Regions from separate parts of the Homo sapiens genome. Here region 2 is linked to region 1. The links come from fine-mapping of genetic effects on gene expression. Tissue or cell type: whole blood. Region 1 holds a variant in brackets; the other region holds the start of a gene. All regions are shown on one strand. Distances are between the middles of the regions. Region 1 overlaps STEAP4 (STEAP4 metalloreductase). Region 2 holds the start of STEAP4 (STEAP4 metalloreductase).

The links.
Region 2: STEAP4 starts here. The variant in region 1 is fine-mapped to the expression of STEAP4 in whole blood (INTERVAL, PIP above 0.99).

What each region holds. Positions count from the first base shown.
Region 1 is chr7:88,282,674-88,293,469 of GRCh38, reverse strand. STEAP4 (STEAP4 metalloreductase) reads left to right here. Exons shown (of 5, transcript NM_024636.4): 2 at 9,199-9,656; 3 at 10,302-10,796. The coding sequence starts at 9,201. It overlaps LOC124901692 (a long non-coding RNA gene), which reads right to left and starts at 1,983. Exons shown (of 2, transcript XR_007060420.1): 1 at 1,160-1,983. The variant C/T (reference allele first, on the strand shown) is at 7,559.
Region 2 is chr7:88,301,218-88,312,679 of GRCh38, reverse strand. It overlaps STEAP4 (STEAP4 metalloreductase), which reads left to right and starts at 5,786. Exons shown (of 5, transcript NM_024636.4): 1 at 5,786-5,888. The region is part of intron 1 of LOC124901692 (a long non-coding RNA gene); the gene reads right to left.

The sequences.
Region 1 (10,796 bases):
ACATCATCAAATTAAAAAATGTTTGTTTTATGACTTCGGATGTGTTAAGACATGAAAAAAACAAGCTATAGGCTGGCAGAAAATGCTTGCAAATCACATATCTGACAAAAGACTCATATGTAGAATATATAAAGATTGTCAAACTCAACAGTAAATAAACCCAAACAGTCCAATTAGAAAATAAGCAAAATACATGAAGAGACTTCTCACCAAAGAGGACACACAGAGAGCAAATAAACACATTAAGAGATATGCAACATAATTAACCATTAAACAAATGCAAATTTAAACCACAATGAAATATCAGAATGGCTAAAATAAAAAATCATGACTCATAAATACCTGGTAAGGGGTAAATTAGTACACATTCGAAGTCAGTATAGCCAAGTCTTAGAATGCTAAACAAACACCATATGACCCAGAATTTGTATCCCGGGGTCTTTATCGCAGAGAAATGAAAACTTATTTTCACACAAAAACCTGTAGGTGAATACTCATAGAAGCTTTATTTGTAATAGCCAAAACTGGAAACAACCAAAATGTCCTACCTTAGATGAAGAGTTAAACTTTAGTATATCTATACTGTAGAATACCGCTCGGCAATAAAATGGAAGAATTATTGATGGATCTTAAGTATGTTATGCTGAGTGAAAAAATGCTAGTCTCAAAAGGCTTGCATTACTGTGTGATTTTATTCATTCTCAAAATGACCAAATTGTAGTGATAAAGAACAGATTAATGACCTCCACGGGTTAGGGTTGGTAGTTCAGAGGGCAGCATGAGGGATGGTCTAGTCTCTAACCTGATTGAAGTGATGGGTACATGAGCATACACATGAGATAAAATGACATGGAAATATACATGCATATGGCTCCAATGTCAATGTCCTGGTTTGGATATTGTACTCTAGTGGCATAAAACTGGAGGAAACTGGGTGAAAGATGCACAGGGACCTCCTGTACTATCTTTACAACTTCCTTGGAATCTATAATTATATCAAACAAAAGTTTGATTGATTTATTTTTTTAATAAGAATTGACTTGTTAAGTATAAGAACTGAAAATAGATTATTTTTGTAATTCCCTTTGGACCTTTTTATGTTTCTACTATGCTGGAATCCTCAAAAGCTGGAAGGGCCTGAGCCTCTCAGACCTCTTACCTCTGAGAGGTGAGAGAAGTAAAATTCACCAGCCAGGCTGGCTCTAACATCCTCATGGGAAGCCTAGTTGGAAACATCCCAGAAGAATACTGCCTCAGGTTTCCAAGGCCTGTGGGGTGAGATCTGCAAAGAGAGGGATGATAAGCAGGACTCCTCCTGACCCACACTTGGTCCCTCATATGACACACACACTCACATACACACACACACACGCGCGCGCACACACACACATGGTTTCTCAGAGTCAGCTGCTACCATGGCCTTCATTGTCATCTTTGCCACCTTTGTATCTGCGTCACTGATTGCTAATTCCTAATCTATGTAAACACCCTTGTGAGATCACTTTACGCATCTTGGCTGTCATCTCTGGGAAATGATTCCATAAGAGGCAAAACCAGTCCTGCAGATTTTCCAAACCCAGAAATATTTCTGTTGTATTTCCTGTTACATAACTGAGGTTTGTGGAGAGCCCATGAGACTGAAGGAAGGAGAGGAAACCCCTATGTTGTGTTTTAACTATTTTAACCCACGTTTCCCTTAATAACTCTTCTTCCTGTTTACTACCTTTTTTATTATTTTCTTTATTATTTCTATCCTGGATATAAGAGTAAAGTAGGACTAGAAAACTTTTTTAAGTCTTTGAACAAGGAACCTCCATGAACGTATATTTACACACAGCTATTTTGAGTTTCAAGATGCCTGAAAAGGGTGTAGCAGCATTCTTTAGATAGTACCTAATGCAAAATGCACCCTCAACTTGATCTCCCTTGTGGTTGAGAGTGTGCATATATCTATTTCTTTTCTTTTTTTTTTTTTTTCTTTTTGAGATGGAGTCTTGCTCTGTTGCCCAGGCTGGAGTGCAGCAGTGCGATCTCGGCTCACTACAGCCTCCACCTCCCAGGTTCAAGCGATCTTTCCCCTTCAGCCTCTCCAATAGCTGGAATTACAAGTGTGTTCCACCACACCTGGCTAATTTTTTGTGTATTTTTAGTAGAGGCGGGGTGTCACCATGTTGGCCAAGCTGGTCTCGAGCTCCTGACCTCAAGTGATCCTCAAACGCCATTTTATATAGAGTTTTATTTATAAGAAATAAGTGGGACAAGTAGGAGATTCTTAAGAATCGTTGCACTCTAGTTCAGATATTTTTTATATATTTATAATAATCATAGTTATATAAGCATAATTAACCCTTAATTTGTAAAGTTTATATAAAGGCTACATTAATTAGATACTTGATTCAATAACTAATAGATTACCAATCTATTTAAAATACCCATTTTCTTAAACACTTACTAGGTCTCAAGAACTGTTTTGAGATGCAGGAATTCATCTAATTTTCACTGCCGGGCGAGGTGTGAGAGCCCTAGCATCTGAAAGTGGTCGACTTGCGAGTTGGTAAGAAGAATTTAATAACAACAGAATAGGTTTGAAAAAGGAAAGTTTTAGTAGAAAGAAAGAACACTGCAGAAGAGTGCAGCAGGGCGCCTTAGCAAGATAGAACTGAGTGGGCCATGGTGGATTCTCCTTGGGAGCATTTATGGACCTTAAGACAGAAGCTTGAGGGTAATTTGGACCATATTAGCCAGACAGGTCATGATAAATGATGACATTTATAGTCATTTTGGTGCCTTTGTGTCAGCAAGGGTTGCACAATGAGTTTCAGCATAGCGTTCTGGAGATGTATAGAAATTTTAGTTACTTAGAAATTTTTTTGAAAGAGGCCTGGAACCAGATGCCTATTTAGATACTAGAGAATTTTAAATACTTCTAAATTCCCTCGATACGGAGTTTTGCCTCTGATGGCCTAGTTGATGGTCACCAGGTGTTCTTTGCTCCCTTCATGATACTTCTAAATTCCTCAGATACGGAGTTTTTTGTCTCCAGTACCTGTTCATGGTCATTAGCTGATTTTTGCTGTCCTCACTCGCAGTATCTTTCAAGTAGGTACTAGCAATCCCTCATTTTACAGATGATGAAACTGAGACACAGAGTTTGAGTAACTTTCTCAAGGTGACATTGCTGGTAAGAGGCAAAGCAAAAAATAGGACCATGAAGTCAATATCTTCATTAAAAAATTTATGAAAGATTAGAATAAATGAATATAGTGACCAAATAGTCAAAATGGTCTGGAATCACTCTCTCTTTGCAATGATTAAGATAATCCAAATGAGAATATTTCAGTTAACAAAATCCATCTCATTACAGGATACTGGCAACTGCATCAAATCTACATTTTGCTTGCAAATGTTCATCCAGTATGAAAGAGAGAATAAAAATATTAGGATAAAATAATTTTTTTAAGTGAGGAGATAGGCAGTCACACATTCTTTTGTGACACAAACCAGTTCTACAGTAGAATAATGAAGGCATTGTTCAGCAGTTTGAAGGTTTGATTTATAAAACTAGGTGTTAACTGATTGGCAATCAACCAATAGAAGGTAAATTGCTAAACTAGTCTGCATGTGCAGATGCTAGTAAGAAATTTTCAAAGGCACAGCTGCACTTTTATACAAAGTTCCCTGATCATCTACAGGTACTTCCCCACATGTGGTCATGACCTTTGATGACACCCATTCAGGATATCAGTCGCCAGTTTGTTTATAAAATGATTCAGATGTACTTAATTAGATTATTCAGAGTTTCTGTGGGAGTGCAGGAATGTCCTGTATTTCTTGTCCCTTTCTCCCATAACTTCTACCTCCCTACAAAGGCCTAAATGCTCTGCTTTTGATGGAGGCGTGCAACTTCAGATAAGCTCCGGTAAGAATATAGGTGTTTTTGATAGGCTAAAATGGAAAGCACAAATTTCTGAAACCCCAGGAAAAAGGTGCAAACTCTACATACACTGTGCAATCTGCATGAAATCCACCATAGGAGAATTGAGTAGTGATTAAGTCTGGTTTGAAAATTCTGCATCAAATTCACAGAGTTTTACTTTCAACCCATTTGGGTGAAAGAAATAATGTCCTTACAACATCTCTTCCACTTCTTTCCTTCTTTCTTACTCTTCTCCATTGGTTACTCTTTAATCATTCAGCATCTTCCTTTTTATTTATCTCACACTGTGCCTGGGACACAGAGTAAACTTTTGTACTTCCAGCCCCTTCATCCCACCCTTTTAATATAGTTCAACGAATATTTATAAATTTCCTAGACTGTGGTAGTTAGTGCTTTTCTGAGCACTGAAGATACATCATTGAACAATAGACACACACAAACACACACACATACACACACACACACACACACGCGCATGCATGCACCAAAAAAAATAAAAGATTAACTGAAAGCTTAAACTACATATTGGAAAAGAAACATTTTTGAGAAAAATTCAATACTGAAAGAAAAGATATTCTTCAAAAGTATAAAAAACAACCTAGATTATTGCAGGAGATCATACAAACTGGTTTGTTTTTTATTTAAATTCTACAGCCACATGGTTCATAACAGTATTTCAGTTTAGTTTTAACTTGCATTTTTTTTTAGTTTTGGGTAATATTAAGAATATTTTACTGTGTTTAGAAGTCTTTTATATATTTCCTTAGGATAAACTATCAGCTCATATTCTTTGCCCAATTTTCTAATGGGCAATTGTTTTTTTCTCATTGATTTATATGAGTTGAAAAATATTTTTTCCAGTTCGTTGATTATCTTCATTATGACATTGCTTAGCGGTTTTGCATTGCAGAAGTTATTTATTTTTATGCAATCACATTTGTCCAACTATTTGTTAATGGTTTAATGATGTAGGAAGAGGACCTTCCCCTCTAAGATTATAAAAGAATGTTCCATGGTTTCTTCTAGTTCTGTTCTAGTTTCATTTTTCTAAAAATAAATCTTTAGCTGGGCACAGTGGCTCATGCCTGTAATCCCAGGACTTTGGGAGGCTGAGGTGGGCGGATCACCTGACATCAGGAGTTCGAGACCAGCCTGACCAACATGGAGAAACCCTGTCTCTACTAAAAATACAAAATTAGCCAGGCATGGTGGCACATGCCTATAATCCCAGCTACTCTGGAGGCTGAGGCAGGAGAATCACTTGAACCTGGGAGGCGGAGGTTGCAGTGAGCCAAGATCACAGCATTGCACTCCAGCCTGGGCAACGAGAACGAAACTCTGTCTCACAAAATAAATAAATAAAATAAATCTTTAATTTATTTTGAATTTACCTTGGGGTGGAGTATAAGGTATAAATTTATTTTTTTCTTTCAGGTAACTCTTGAGTTGCCCCAACGTTGAAACCACCTTTGCAAAAATTCTAACTGAAGAAATTATGACAGTGAAAGAGATCAGAACTAACTGACTCCATCTGGCTTCTAACCTTTAAGCTGTCCTTGTTCATTCCTGGTTGCAGGCAGAACTAACCTTGGGAAGGAATTTAGTTTATGGTTTGGCTCTGAAACAAAATTGATAATGTCCCTTTTCCCAAAAAGACCCACTTCTTGCCTGGGGACCAGTCTGCCTTTGTAGGACTAACAGATTAACTACAGGATTAGATATTACATTTTAGGGGTCATGCAGCCTCTGGCTACAAGAGTCTGACCTTCCCCAGATTGCTCCTATGGATAGCATTACTATTATAAAACCTAAGATCAGTGCTTGAGATATTTTGCAGACCCTGCACTGGATGGATCAGCTGACACCACCCAGATTGGTAATCTGGCTTAACCACTTCTGCGATCCCCTCTATAATTCTATCTCCAACCTGACCAATCAGCACTTCCCACTTTCGAGCTCCTATTTTAATTTAAATTATCTTTAAGAACTCTGATCTTCGTGCTCTGGGAAACTGATTTGTGTAATAATAATACTCGTGTCTCCCATACAGCCAGCTCTGCCTGAATTACTCCTTCTCCATTGCAATCCCCCTGTCATGATAAATTGGCTCTGTCTAGGCAGCAGGCAAGGTGAATCCATTGGGCAGTTACAAATTTGGGGGCTCGACCAGGATTGCCTTTGTTGTTACCTGCTCTGTAGCCCACCTCTGGTGATGGATCTGGAGGCCAACCCAAGTGGCCACCTAGTTCTCTTGGACTAGGGGCTGACTCTGGCACTCTCTGCCAGTGGGGTGCTGCTGACCCAATGTGCATGGATTCAATTGCAGTGGAGAAGTAATGCTAGGGAGATATCTCATAACTGTAGCCTCATCACTGGGTGTCTGTAGCTGTAGCCTCAATGCAAGGTGTCTGATTTGGTGAGTATTCCAGGCAGCTACCAACAGCCCCTTCCTTCTCCTGATTTATTGGCCTCTCTGGAGGTGCTGCTGTCTCTTAGTAACCTCCCAGGGTGTCTGTCTGTAGCCCTATCACAAGGTATCTGCCTGTAGCTCCATTACAAGGTGTCTGTAGCTGTAGCCCCATTACAGAGTGTCTGTCTGTAGCCCCATTAGGGGTTGTCTAATTGGATGGAGACTAAGGAACTTGTTTGGAGGACTACTCTTGGTTTGAGACTGGGTCTGGAATCTGTGTCTTGAAGGCCTTCTGTTCATCTTACATTGTTTGCGTGTGTGTGTGTGTGTGTGTGTGTGTGTGTGTGTGTGTGTGTGTTTATATGTATGGAGGGCCCTGAAGGAATTGCTCACAGCAGTTTTCTGGGGGCAGGGGACAGAGTCTCACTCTGTTGCCCAGGCTGGAGTGCAGTGGTGCAATCTCAGCTCACTACAATCTCCACCTCCCAAGTTCAAGCAATTATCATGCCTCAGCCTCAGAGTAGCTGGGACTATAGGCGTGCGCCTCCATGCCCAGCCCTGAGTTATCATTTTGGGTAAATGAATGACTTATGGTGACACGGGACTCTATTTTGTGATATCCAGTGTTTTAAATCTTTGATATTTGACAAACCTTCCAAGATCAAATTATAAGTTTAAAAAAAAAAATTAGATATCCTGAAGTTCAAAAAGATATATTAGGCTTATTTAATGTATTAAAATCATGCAGGAAACATTGTCAAATATAAAATGGTGTTTAACTTTCTTTGAGTTATACTCATATAAATATGTTATTAGTATGTGTTATAAAATTGTATAAGATTTCTATAATTCTAATATGCCTCAGTATATGTTATCAGTAATAATTATAATTGTTATGTTGAATTTTTGTGTGCCACAGAGGTAACAAATTTCCTTGTCAATTTCTTTGACTGCGGCTTCCCTAAAACATTTCTGTCATCTGCAGACAATTGTTGTCTTGATTTGGTCCTCTTTAGGAGATGGTTTTATAATCAGCTATAAAACTTTGACAGGTGCTCTTGAATGCAAGTTTCTGATAACCTTGGAGATTATGACATTAAAATAAAGGAAAAAACTTTCGGGACTCTCATAAAGAGCTGAAATGTTCTTTCATATGAAGAAATCAGCTCTGTCTAGGTAGCAGGCAAGGCAAACCTGTTGGGTCATTACAA[C/T]ATTAGCTATTAAATAATCTGTTTTCTCATTGACCTGAGATGCTATTTTTATCATATGTGTTTGGGTCCATTTCTGAATTTTTTTAAAACTTATTCATTAAAATTTTTCTACTTTTCTTTTTTCTTTTCTTTCTTTCTTTTTTTTTTTTTTTTTTGAGACAAAGTCTCTCTCTGTCGCCCAGGCTGGAGTGCTGTGGCCTCCTGAGTAGCTGAGATTACAGGCGCGTGTCAACACACCCAGCTAATTTTTGTATTTTTAGTAGAGATGGGATTTCACTATGTTGGCCAGGCTGGTTTCAAACTCCTGGCCTCAAGTGATCCACCTGCCTTGGCCTCCCAAAGTGCTGGGATTACAGGCATAAGCCACTGTGCCTGGCCAGAACTTTATCCATTTCTTTGATAGTACCACATTATTTAATTATTTTAGCTTTATAAAAATTTTAATATTTAATATGACTAGCATCCCATTTATTAACCTACTTTTCAGAATTTATAGAATTAGGGAAAACTGACGTTGTGTGAGCCTTGCCATCCAAGAACATGCTGTACATTTTCTTTTATATAAGTTCTCTTCTCCTGATTCTTAAGAGCATTTAAAATATTTTTCATACATATGTTGCACATATCTTGCTATCTTGTTACATATTGTCTTTATTTTGTTGCAGCTATAAGTAGGATCCTTTCATGTATTAAATCTTCTTACTGGTTTCTTTTTTAATATATGAAGAATATTTATTTTAATCGAGTTCCCAGCCTAGATGTTGAATTATTTTTGTATGTATGATACTTTTTTGGTTGATTTTCCCAGTTTTTAAAGTTTGATCTAGTTCGATCATCTGGAATCCCTTTTGAATTTCTGTACCTCTGATTTCTTTCTCTGATCTAGTTATGTTAGAGCTTTCAGAACAATAACTAAAGTGGTCATAGCAGATGTATTTGTCTGGTTCCTGACTTTGTTGGAAATGTTTCTACTAATGTTTTTAGGCATAATGCTGAATTTTAGGTTAAGATCAATAATTTTTATATGTTAAGGAAATATCTATGTATTTCTCTTTCACTATGAATCAAGAATAAATGTTGAATTTTAACAGATGTCCTTTTAACATACACAGATATGACAGACTTTTTCCTTAAATCTTTTAATATAAAATTAAATTTTAATCTTTTAAGTTATATTAATGAAGTTTCAAAAATTGAATTTATAGAACTAATCTTCACATTTGTAGAATAATCCCCATTTGATCAACATAAACCTTCTATTAACAAGCTGCTGGATTGTGTTTGCTAATGTTTTATTTAGTTTTTTTTGGTATCACTAAACAAGTGAATTTATCTATAATTTATTGGAGCATATTTTTTGTCAGATTTTGCCCTGTATCCTTTTATCAAACAGAAGCTTTTCACCAGTGATTTTGTTAAATAAGACACATATGAAAAGATATATGACAATTTTTACTCCTTCCAAATTTGGGGGGAAATATATATGACAATTTTTACTCCTTCCAAATTTGGGGGTAAATATAGTTAAGATAATTAGATTACAACAAGTCAATTACATTACTTCTTGAATATAGCTCTCTTTAATTTTCCAGGCACAGAGCATTTATATTTTGTTGGGCATTTGTGTTATTATTTTTCAGTTATGGAGAAAACTTGTATAGATGCACTTCCTCTTACTATGAATTCTTCAGAAAAGCAAGAGACTGTATGTATTTTTGGAACTGGTGATTTTGGAAGATCACTGGGATTGAAAATGCTCCAGTGTGGTTATTCTGTTGTTTTTGGAAGTCGAAACCCCCAGAAGACCACCCTACTGCCCAGTGGTGCAGAAGTCTTGAGCTATTCAGAAGCAGCCAAGAAGTCTGGCATCATAATCATAGCAATCCACAGAGAGCATTATGATTTTCTCACAGAATTAACTGAGGTTCTCAATGGAAAAATATTGGTAGACATCAGCAACAACCTCAAAATCAATCAATATCCAGAATCTAATGCAGAGTACCTTGCTCATTTGGTGCCAGGAGCCCACGTGGTAAAAGCATTTAACACCATCTCAGCCTGGGCTCTCCAGTCAGGAGCACTGGATGCAAGTCGGCAGGTAAGAATAAACAAATTTACACTCAATCTTTAAAACATGAATCATTAAATGTGCACTTGCCTCAAAGATTCCAAAATATAATTCCAAGATGAAATGCCCACTAAATATTACATTTTGCTAATATGTGCTGTGAATAATTTTCTTGAGCTTGACCAAATAAGGTGGTCAACTGTTATATCTCCCACTGTCTGCACCCTCAGATTTTAGTTTGATGGAACCCCATGGTGTCAGCCTCTGGAGGCTTCTTGTCAGTACTAGAAACTAATACTTGGTGAATATCCTTTTCTGCTTCCATTACCTTGTATGAAACTGGTTCCATTTATACACTGAGATTAGAAGCATTCATAAGTGATGCGGCACCACAAACACAGAAGATCAAACTACTCACAGTGTGGAGAACCATGTCTTTTATAAGTGTGATGTGCCTAAAACCATCATCAACTAAAAACCCTGGTACTTACCTATCTAAGACACCACATACAAGTTTAAAACATCTTGTTACATATGTTAATTCTACATCCTTATTTTAAAATCGGTTCACTGTTTTACGTCATCATTTGGCATGGTGCTGTTGTAGCCTTTCAAAATAATTATTAAATAAGGAAAAGGAGTAAATACAGAATTAATTAACTGTTTTTAAACTAGGTGTTTGTGTGTGGAAATGACAGCAAAGCCAAGCAAAGAGTGATGGATATTGTTCGTAATCTTGGACTTACTCCAATGGATCAAGGATCACTCATGGCAGCCAAAGAAATTGAAAAGTACCCCCTGCAGCTATTTCCAATGTGGAGGTTCCCCTTCTATTTGTCTGCTGTGCTGTGTGTCTTCTTGTTTTTCTATTGTGTTATAAGAGACGTAATCTACCCTTATGTTTATGAAAAGAAAGATAATACATTTCGTATGGCTATTTCCATTCCAAATCGTATCTTTCCAATAACAGCACTTACACTGCTTGCTTTGGTTTACCTCCCTGGTGTTATTGCTGCCATTCTACAACTGTACCGAGGCACAAAATACCGTCGATTCCCAGACTGGCTTGACCACTGGATGCTTTGCCGAAAGCAGCTTGGCTTGGTAGCTCTGGGATTTGCCTTCCTTCATGTCCTCTACACACTTGTGATTCCTATTCGATATTATGTA
Region 2 (11,462 bases), 19 kb before region 1:
CTAACTCTATTTGAAAGTGAACAGGACCTCATTCACTCTAATATTTTTAAATTTATTTTTGTCTCCTCTTTAGCATGTGAAAAATCTAACTAACCTTCCTTTACTGGCACTAGGCACAAATTGCCTGGACTGGAATTGCTGTTGCCAATAATACTTCCAGTACTAACAGTAACTACCAATCAACTATTGATTCATAGCTCTGCTAGCAGCTTCATATATCATGGCGTGTACCAGCAGGCTGGGGTGAAAGCAGATGACACATCTTCAGTTTTTGAATTACAGAAAGAACATCTCTATTAATGCCAGCTGCATTTATCAAAAAATTAACTCAAATATTTCTCCATCTCTTCAAATTATTTTGCACATCTTGTTCTTTGGTAACATCGTATTTAAGTGACCTCTTCTGAGGTCAGCAGATGTGGTCTTGGGCCGCCTCCAGATTCCTATTGGTGATAGTCAGTCCATAGCCCTGCCAGTGCCTTAGAAGCTTCCAAAATTAACACAGACCTTGTGACCCAGGGAATCAGAGACCCAGATAAAGAGGAAAGGGTTTCCTTGCCTATTTTCAATTCCCAGAAGTAGCTGCAACTGTCTGTCACTTCTAGGCTTTGTCAGTGATGTTTTAAAATATTATTATTCACTTATCCCACATACTCAACTCTTCTCTTCAACCTCCTCTTGAACCTAAAGTCAAGTTCTTTAGGTCTTATTTTTAAGTTCTTTATTGTCATTCCTGACATTATCCCTAGTCCAGACTCCAATACTGTCAGTGTCTGACGTATTTTCCCATCAGTACTTTTTTTGGGTGCAGGTGGGCAGTAAAATGTTGTTTGGTTTTGCTTCCTGGTCTGTGTTGGCAGGAGTCCTAGAAATTGGTTAAAACCAGGTCAATGGCCTGGCTTCTTCACTATACCCTTTGCAGTTTCAGGAAAAAGGAGGAGAAGGATTCTATCTGTCCACCCCCACTAAAATAGGAAAGAAGTAGAAAAAAAGTTTTCTGAGACAGGAAAATGATTTCTGAATATACCAGGAAGTAGCTGAAAAACTTCAGTCACAGAAATTGATTATTTATCCAAGTCCCAAAGCTACTACAAGAAAACTCAGAAAGGCCTTTGTTTTGCTTTTTTTAACAACACATGCCTTCCTCATTCTGACCACATGTTGTGATGAAGCCACCTCAGTAGGCATTACAGTCACAGAAGTCTGACTGAGCAGGTGCCTTTCTCATCCTACCCAATCCCATTTTATACAAATAACAGACATTCAATTACTGACTCATGTCACTAAAAAGCCCAGAGTATACAGCTTTCTTCAGATATGGCACTCTAACAATTGCAGAAATCTGTCTCTTCTCATCTCTTTGCTCTCTTTTCCCCTGAAGTGGCCTCTTTCTCAGGCTGACTTTCTCCTCACAGTGACCCAGGCTTGCTTTTTAGCAGTCCGACAACCCTCTGTAAAGAGTGTGCTGCTTCCCAGGTTGTTCCAGGAAAGATTCCTATTGGCCCAACTCAGGTCACATGCCATCATTGGACCAATCACTGTGGACAAGGCTTTGTGCTTTGAATGGCCAGGTCTAAGTCAGGTGCCTGATCCTGGAACCCCAGTGCCATTGGTTCAACTTGAACCACGTGGATCAAGATTGTGCAAGGGCGTTTATCAAACGAAAATGAAGATATAATTAGCAAAGAGAAATGGATGCTGCAGGACCAGGACTAGAGCAGGCAAGGAAGGCACCAAAGGAAAAACATTTAAGAAGTCATTTATTTTCAGGTTCGTGCAGACTGGGTTTTGAGTGAGCACCTCCACAGATTTGGTGTCCTAGCCTCCTCATTCACCTCACTTAGTCCTGGTCCTGGATGCTAGGTAAGCAAAAGACAAAATATTCCTTACACCAATATTCAAATATATCTCCCAGAGCGCCTGAAATCCCTGCCATAGAGATTCATTTCTGGGGGTTAGACAGAGACATCTCTAGGAGTCCTTCAAAAAAAATTTTTTTTTCAAAAACAGCTAGAGGGCAAATCTTTAAGTCAATAAAAGATTCGCATACACATGCTAATTATAGACTATCAAGTCAGTCACCTCCTGGTCCAGCACGTGTTGAAAGCTCCACCCCACCCCAATAAGAAGGTGTGGAACACTGTAAGGAGAGGACTTGCGGAAGAGGGATAAATGCCCAAGACACAAGATAGTGCAGAGGGGAGCCCCAGAAAAGGAGAAAAATGGCATTGAAAGGGAGATACAAAATGTTAAGGGTAACTTTTTTTCAATCACTTAATAACATTTAATGAACACTGGCTCTAGGCCTACTTCATCAGTTTGCCTAAATTCTACCATTTGGGGCCTTTGACATAGTAGGATGAGGAGAGAGGAAGTAGCAGGAAAGACTCAGGGGCACAGTAAATGTGGAAATCCCTAAATAAGAACAATTTGGTGGTGCACAACATCTGGGAAGGTTTATCTGGAGCTCTGAGTATAAAACTACAGGAAGAAAGATGAATCCTGCCCACAGGAAGTCCTTGGGTACTCAGGTTGCTGGCATCTTTGGGAAGCTTAATTTTCCCCTATGGCAAGGGTTTACGGAAAGACTAGGAGAGTTATGAACTGTGTGTCCCTCCTAGGCCCAAGGGGAAAATCAATCTTTAAACCACAAGATAAATACGTCAAATGCCTCTTAAGTTTTGCACTAATAAAGGCATTTTTTTTCCATCCTTCATATCCCAGTAATTTAATCTTCCTTTTCTAGGACTCCAGTTGCCTTTGGCAAAGAAAAGAACTTGCATAACTGAAATATATCTGCCTCTCATAAAAATCACATTTCAAAATTTTTTATCTACCTAATAATAATAAGTTTATAAAGCAATGATTCTGTTATTACTCAGAGGATGCATTCGAGAATATGGTTGTCCATTATGTCAACTCATAATGGATCCAAACACCACCTAGAAACCAGAGTGACCTGGTCCATAGACCCCAGCTTCTGCTTCTAAATGGCATGCATCGATATAGCTACTCTCTTAACCAGATGTCAGTAAACCTTGGAATTTTATAACTCACTCGTCTGTTTATCCAGCAGCCTTCTGCATATAAAATAGCTTCCACAGGATATGTCTACATGGAGAGAATGTGATGGCCATAATGTCTGGTGCCCTTAGCAACTGTATTTTTACAATAACTATTTGCTTTATATTCCATTAACAACTAACAAGTCACCATTTTGGTTGTTTCAGGCTCAGTGTGCTTATCAAGTTTCTGTGCCCATCAAGGCTTAAAACCAAATGGTAGACAAAGGGCAAGTCTCCAAAACTGTGTTGACCATCTATGAAGACTCTTAGGGACACGCAGCGGACCTTCTTCCATGGGTGCACACCCCTCTCTTGCCTATTAGTCTGCAAACTGGGAAAATCAGATGCTATAAAATCAATGAATATTTTAAGTTCTTCCCTGGCCAAAGAATACTATCGGATGAATTTTTTGCAAAATATAATAATTGGCAGTAGATTTATTAATTAATGAGTGCAATAAATATTCAGTACCAATTACACTCACGCACCACCTAACAATGTTTCGGTCAATGATGCACTGCATATATAATAACGGTCTCATAAAATTATAATGGAGCTGAAAAATTCCTCTTGCCTAGGGACACTGTAGCTGTCATAACATCACAGAGCAATACATTACTCACATTTGTGGTGATGCTGGTGTAAAGAAACCTACTATGCTGCCAGTCATATAGAAGTATAGCATGTACAATTATGTACAGTATATAATACTTGATAATGATAATAAATAGCTATGTTACTGGCTTATGTATTTATTATATGTACCTTTTAAATTATTTTTGAGTGTACTCCTTCTACTTGTATTTTTTAAAAAGTTAACTGTAAAACAGCCTCAGGAAGGTCTTTCAGCAGATATTCCAGAAAAAGGCATTGCTACCACAGAAGACAGCTCCATGCATGTTACTGCCCCTGAGGACCTTTCAGTAACAAAAGACATACAGGTGGAAGACAGTGATATCACATATCTTGATTCTGTGTAGGTCTATGCTAATATGTGTGTTTGTGTCTTCATTTTTAGCAAAAAAATTAAAACTTTTAAAAACGGGACAAAAGCTTATCGAATAAGGATATAAAGACAAAAACTATTTGTACACACTGTACAATATGTGTTTTAAGCTGCGTTATTACAAAACTCAAAAAGTTTTTTAAAACTTAGAAGTTTAAAAAGTAAAAATGTTACAGAAAGCTAAGGGTAATTTACTATTGAAGGAAGAAAAATATTTCTTATAATAGCATAGCCTAAATGTAGTGTTTATAAAGTCTACAGTAGTGTATAGTAATATCCTAGGCCTTCACACTCTCTCACTTACTCACCCAGAGCAACTTCCAGTCCTGTAAGCTCCATTCATGGTAAGTGTTCCATACAGGTATACCATTTTTTATCTTTTATACCACATTTTTACTATACCTTTTCTATGCTTAGATACACAAATACTTACCATTGTGTTACAACTGACTACAGTATTCAGAAAAGTAGCATACTGAACAGGTTTGTAGACTAGGAGCAATCGGCTATATACCATCTAGCCTAGGCCTGTAGTAGGTGATACCATCTAGGTTTGTGTAAGTGCACTCTATGATGTTCACACAATGACGAAATTGCTTGATGAGACATTCCTCAGAATATATTTAATAAATTGCTTAATGAGGCATTCCTCAGAATAAATCCCCATTGTTAAGTAATGCATTTTGCTAGGTGTTATGGAAAATTCCAGACTGAAAAAACTAGGGTGTCATCCCTCGAAGACTGCAGTCCAGGACAAGACACACACACATGATAATAACTCTTTTGAAAGGCAAATTGTCTTAATTGCTGTGCTAAAAGTATAAACTACTGTATAGAGAAAGAAAATATTAATTGCAACTAATGGCTAAGAAAAGACCTCTTGAAAGACATGGGGTCTGACCAACCCCACAAGAAGCTATGAGGAGAGTTGCAATCCAGACAAAGGGAAGGTTGACTCAACAACCCCTTTCCATGGGAGGAACAGGCCTCCCATGTGGCCGGGCCTCTGGAGCTTGGCAAGCGTATGCTGTGGAATTTAAGACCCATGGCTGAGTGGAGATCATTGGGAAGACTCTGGGATTTAGATTACAGAGTTTGGGAGTGTATGGATGCTTTGCCCCATAGTTTATCAGGATTATTTCAATCTTAAACAACCAGGGCTGTGGTTTTTGACCTTCTCTGTAGAAAGACACATTTGCATGTATATCATAAGGTATCCCGATCCCTCTTTCATTTGTTTTATTTCTTTAATCTACCTAAATTAAGACCTGAAAACTCAAGATCTTCCAAGTTATGAGCCCCATAAGAACCCATGGCTTCCAGGCGGAGGGGAAAGATACCACCTTTTCTATAAACTGAGACAAGATGGCAAAAGAATTGCCTAGAAGCCTAGTCCAGGTGCTGTTTTCTCAGCTACTCAAAGAGATCCTTCTTGCTCCTTTAGGAAAGGGGGATTCCTAGACCTCTCCAAACCTCAATCACCCTGGGATGCACAGATGCCAAGGGCTCGGGTGTAACCCTTAAAATCCCCGCTTCCCGGGGGTCAGCGGCACCATCAGCAGCACCGCAGTATAGAAGTTCCGGTCCTTCCAGCTGCTGGGATTCTCAGCTTGAACTCTTCCAGGAAACAAGTTCTTTTCCGCTTCTCTTGCGAAATCCAGCAGACCGTCCCGCCCTTCTCTGGCTTCTTATAGCAGCGAGAGCCACAAGCCACAGCGCTGAGCTGCAGGCGCGGCGAAACTTCCCTCTACCCGCCCGGCCCGCGGCGCGCACCGTTGGCGCTGGACGCTTCCTCCTTGGAAGCGCCTCTCCCTCAGGTGGGTCACTTTTCGCCACAAGGCTCCCGTCCCTTATCTGCTTCAGCTCACCTCCAGTCCCTGCTGCTAGGACCCCACTCCCCAGCCCATCGCACTGAAGAACAGGTGCTTGCAAACTCCCCGCCGCGCCCCGGCATCACTTTAGAGGAAAGTCACCTGAGGCTGCTCCGCGATTCAGCAAGCTTCTAACTTCCTGGAGTTTAAGGCTCATCCCTACCCCAGGGTGCAGACAAGCCCAAAGGGGGAAAATTAAGGGGTTAGATTCTTCTCTGCATCTTACTTCTGGATTGGCGCACTCTTGGGGCGCCCATCAAAAAGTAGGCTGGAAGAATGTGGCTTTAGCAGTCAGTCTCCAAGGTCTCAGATCCGAGGCTGCTTCTTGACCAGGCACTAAAAATTTGTCCTGATACCTGCAACCACTTCCATTTTTTTATCTTGATTTAAATTTCCTCTTGCAATTTAAAGGTTATTTTTCTGGAGGAAGATTGTTCAGAATATAATTTATTGTGAAGAGTAAATAAAGCCTCAGTTCCGTTTGTTTGTCCAGAGACAGAATTTTATTATTCTTTTTCCCACCTCTAGATGGTAATTTAGGAACTTTCTTTAAAAGATTGGTGTACTGAGGCTGGGTACGGTGGCTCAAGCCTGTTATCCCAACACTTTGGGAGGCCAAGGCCGATGGATCACTTGAGGTCAGGAGTTCGAGACCAGCCTGGCCAACATAGTGCAACCCAGTCTCTACTAAAAATACAAAAATTAGCCAGGCGTGGTGGCAGGTGCCTGTAATCCCAGCTACACAGGAGGCTGAGACAGGAAAATCACTTGAACCTGGGAGGTGGAGGTTGCAGTGAGCTGAGAAAGTGAATTGGATAGAGAATGGGGGAGGGGAGGAAGAATACTATTCCTAGTTCTATAATAACTAGAACCTCATTATCTCAGCCTCAGTTTCCACAGATGTAAAATAAAAGGCTGGCTACTGGGCCAGATGATCCAGAAAGTTCAACTCTAACAAGGTGAAAAGCCGTGACTAAAGATGCCTGCAAGTTTGAAATACATAGAAAATCTCCTTAATGCTACAACTATAATTCAGTGGTTACTTTTTTCATAATAATGCATGTTCCATTTTTATAAGGAAACTCTCCAGTTGTCGGGGGAAGAGTCTCTTCCCACAGGAGCATCTTAAAGTTCTGCCACATTTATCATTCAGAGAATACTCTCAGCTTTCAAAACCATTCTTCAGCCTTGCTATGTGAGAATGTCCTATTCCCTACAAATGGCAGTCATATAAATGTCACTCACATGAGAGAACATTTTTTTTTTCTGATACAGTAGGTATAATTTTGTAAAATGGCACATTTATTTGAAGCAGTAACTTTTCTGAGATATGGCCTTTTGCAAGGTCCCAAGTTTTTCAGAATGCTGTGATTTAGCACAATATGAGATTTGACCTGCATGTATTCTACCTGCATGGCAAACACTGCCAACCCAGAAAACAGGATGAGACACTTCCTATTTATCAGGCTCCAAGGCTGTAAAGTAAATGGTACATGTGTACAGAGAAATTGGGTCATAGCAGTTTTTCTATTTGGTAACGTTTACAGTTCCACTGAGGTTCACGTTGTTCACATTGTTGAAGTTCACATTGTTCAGAAACCAGGTGTACAAGGCCTGGCCCCTAGCTGAAGAACAATTTCCAGACTTCTGCCTTACTAAAGCTCGCTAACTGTTGTTTAGAAGGAACTAAACAGACTTTTTAAGATTGTTAATAAATTAAAAACCCCAGGCCTTGCACTATGTGTGAACAATTTTAAGAAAAATAAGGTCATTTGTTATGGAATTTTATATTCAAAGAAACTTGGAGTGGTCACTCTGCATTACTTTGTCTCTTGAAGGACTTCCCCTGAATCACCCTACTATTATTAATACTGTTATTAAAAGGATATAAATTCTCCTTTTAAAGGCTGGGTAGCTGATTCTGTTGTCACTCTCAGGAACACATTCCACTGTTTTAGGATCCTTACCACCTAGTTCTCTTCATAATTAATTTAGACGTGTTTATCAAATGCTACTTAAAAATCATTTTTTTTTTGGAAAATCTTAGGAAATCTGATAAGTTGCTAGCAAACACACACACACACACACACACACACAACAGCAGCAACACAGTAGTCCTTCAAAACCTGAAGATTGGGCACTTTGCTAGGGCACTTTGTAGCTAGTTTTTTCTGGGTTGTCCTCTGAGAAGGTAATTTGCTAGTGCCTGCAGCTACATCTACCAATAATTCTTACTATAACAATGCAGAGTAGGATGGGGATAGTGAAGTTTTCTGGGTGGGATTTTGTTTGTTTGTTTGTTTTTTTGTTGTAAGTTTATGCCAGATAATAATAATGTAAGGTTTACAGAGATAAGATCTCTGAAGTTACCTGTCTCTGTTCTTCACAGATTTTTTTTTATTATTATACTTTAAGTTTTAGGGTACATGTGCACAATGTGCAGGTTAGTTACATATGTATACATGTGCCATGCTGGTGCGCTGCACCCACTAACTCGTCATCTAGCATTAGGTATATCTCCCAATGCTATCCCTCCCCACTCCCCCCATCCCACAACAGTCCCCAGAGTGTGATGTTCCCCTTCCTGAGTCCACGTGTTCTCATTGTTCAGTTCCCACCTATGAGTGAGAATATGCGGTGTTTGGTTTTTTGTTCTTGCGATAGTTTACTGAGAATGATGATTTCCAATTTCATCCATGTCCCTACAAAGGACATGAAAAGAGACTGGTTTACTAATTAGGAAAACTTCCTGAACAGTTCTATATACTGTGTTAACTCCACTCAAGATATTTCTGATGACTTTTAGGTCATTTCCAAAGTGATTTGAATTAGTATTTGTCCTTTTGTTAAGAAGAAATCAGTCCTGGAAGGAATCAAACTAAATAAATAACTAAAGAATAATTAATGCATAAAACAAGGCATGCTAAGAAAACATTCTTGGCCTACATAGATTAACAATTTGTTCTTCCCAAATCATTAAGGAATAGAAAACAATGAATCCTTGTGCTGTTTAAAGATCCTCTTTCAGAAACATATCATTGCAAAAGAACACACTATTCTACTAAAGGAAGTATATACACTCTAATTAACTAGGCAGGACATTGACATCCCAATCTAAATTCTTCTCCACAATGTTCTGTAAGAGTTTATTCAGCCATGTGTGGAGAGGTTTACTGTACTGTACTTTGGCAGTCACATATTTCTGAAAAGCTATTTTGGGAGGACTTTTTTTTTTTTTTTTTGAGACTGAGTCTCGCTCTGTCACCCAGGCTGGAGTGCAGTGGCAGGATCTTGCCTCACTGCAACCTCTGCTCCTTGGGTTCAAGCAGTTCTCCTGCCTCAGCCTCCTGAGTAGCTGGGATTATAAGTGCCCACCACAATGCCCAGCTAATTTTTTTATGTTTAGTAGAGAAGGGGTTTCGCCGTGTTGGCCAGGCTTGTCTGGAACTCCGGTCCTCAGGTGATCCATCCGCCTTGGCCTACCAAAGTGCTAGGACTACAGGTGTGAGCCACCGCGCCCGGTTGGAGTTTTTTTTTTTTTTTTTTTTTTTTTAATGCAGATTATATGATCAATCCTAACATCAGGATAAAGTTCCCTTTTCATCTTAAAAGGAAGGAAAATGTTTGCAAAGAGTAATTTTGAAAAGTTAGGAACTATAATTCTAAATAAAAAGAAGGCTAAAAGAAAATAAAACTATATAGCACAGCTCTTGGAAGATTATTAGTAGAATACAAGCTAGTCAGTTTGGCCTCAGCACCCAATTTTTTTTTTTTTTTTTTTTTTTTGAGACAGTCTCACTCCTTCACTCAGGCTGGAGTACAGTAGCGCGATGTCAGCTCACTGCAACCTCCATCTCCTGGGCTCAAGCAATTCTCCTGCCTCAGCCTCCTGAGTAGCTAGAATTAAAGGCATGCACCACCAAGCCTACCTAATTTTTGCATTTTTAGTAGAGATGGGGTTTCGCCATTTTTGCCAGGCTGGTCTTCAACTCCTGACCTCAAGTGATCTGCCTGTCTTGGCCTCCCGAAGTGCTGGGATTACAGGCGTGAGTGACCGCACCTGGCCAGCACCCAATATTAAGGAAAAAAAAATGCATTAAGAACAGAGCCAGGGCTCAGAGAGCTGATGGCACCAGCACTGTGGAGCGTAGAAATAGGAAGGGATAATTAATGGTCATCGCTGATTGTTCATCTTTCATCTATACCTGCTCTTTTTACAGGGTGTGAAAACAGTTTTGAGCTCAAGTTAAATTGTGGCTGCAAAACTTTTGCACAGACTTTGGAAAACTTACTTGTTCCGCTTCCTGGCAGATTCAAGTCCCTCCTAGCCTGTAGGCGCCCATCCTCTCTACACATTCGTCTGCTCTGGCCATTACACTATGCATTGCAACAATTTGATTATATGCTTCATCTTTCCCAAGACCAAAGCTCCTTGAGGACAGGGTCCATCTCGTTTCTCACTTTATCCCTCTTAGTGTGGCTATTCAATAAATCTCTGTTGAAAGCAAGGCATTGCTAATAACACTGATTTTTATTTTTGGAAGATACTTACCTTATGGACATAGTACATAATGAGTATGGATGCTGCCTGCACAATATTAGTTAACAGGGTCAAAGTGCAGTGGCAAAGTCCACATTTTAACTTCCTACCATTCAGGGAGAGGCATGAGGTTGCTTTGAACTGTATAGCACATATAAAGTGAATAGTTGAAATTATTATAACATTTTATTTAAAGTAGAAGAAACTGCAGGAACCTTGGTATTTCCTGATTTAGTGTCCCTATTATGTTGCTATACTGTATTGTAGTTACAAATTTATTTGTAATATTTTGTATTCTAATTCGTTTTAAAGAGTGATATGGGGCCAAACACGGCGGCTCACGCCTGTAATCCCAGCACTGTGGGAGGCTGAGGCGGGCGGATTGCCTGAGCTCAGGAGTTCAAGATGAGCCTGGCCAACATGGTGAAACCACATCTCTACCAAAAATACAAAAATTAGCTGGGCGTGGTGGTGCACACCTGTAGTCCCTGCTACCTGGGAGGCTGAGGTGGGAGAATAGTTTGAACCCAGGAGGCTGAGGTGGGAGAATAATTTGAACCCAGGAGGTAGAGGATGGCACCACCGCACTCCAGCTGTCTGGAAAAAAAAAAAGTGATATGGGGCCAGGTGCAGTGGTTCACACCTATAATCCCAGCACTTTAGGAGGCTGAGGTAGGAGAATCACTTGAGACCAGGAGTTCAAGACTAGCCTGGGCGATGGTAAGACCCCATCTCTACAAAAAATAAAAATTAAAACGTTAGCTAGGTGTAGTAGTGCATACATGTAGTCTCAGCTACTTGGGAGGCGGAAGTGGGAAGATCTCTTGAGCCTGGGAGGTCAAGGCTGCATGAGCCATGATCATGCCACTGCACTCCTGCCTGGGTGACAGAGCAAGACCCTGTCTAAGAATGATATGCTCTTCTCCAGTACCAAAGTACTAAAGTGATTTATTCATCCTATTCAATTCCCTGACATAAGT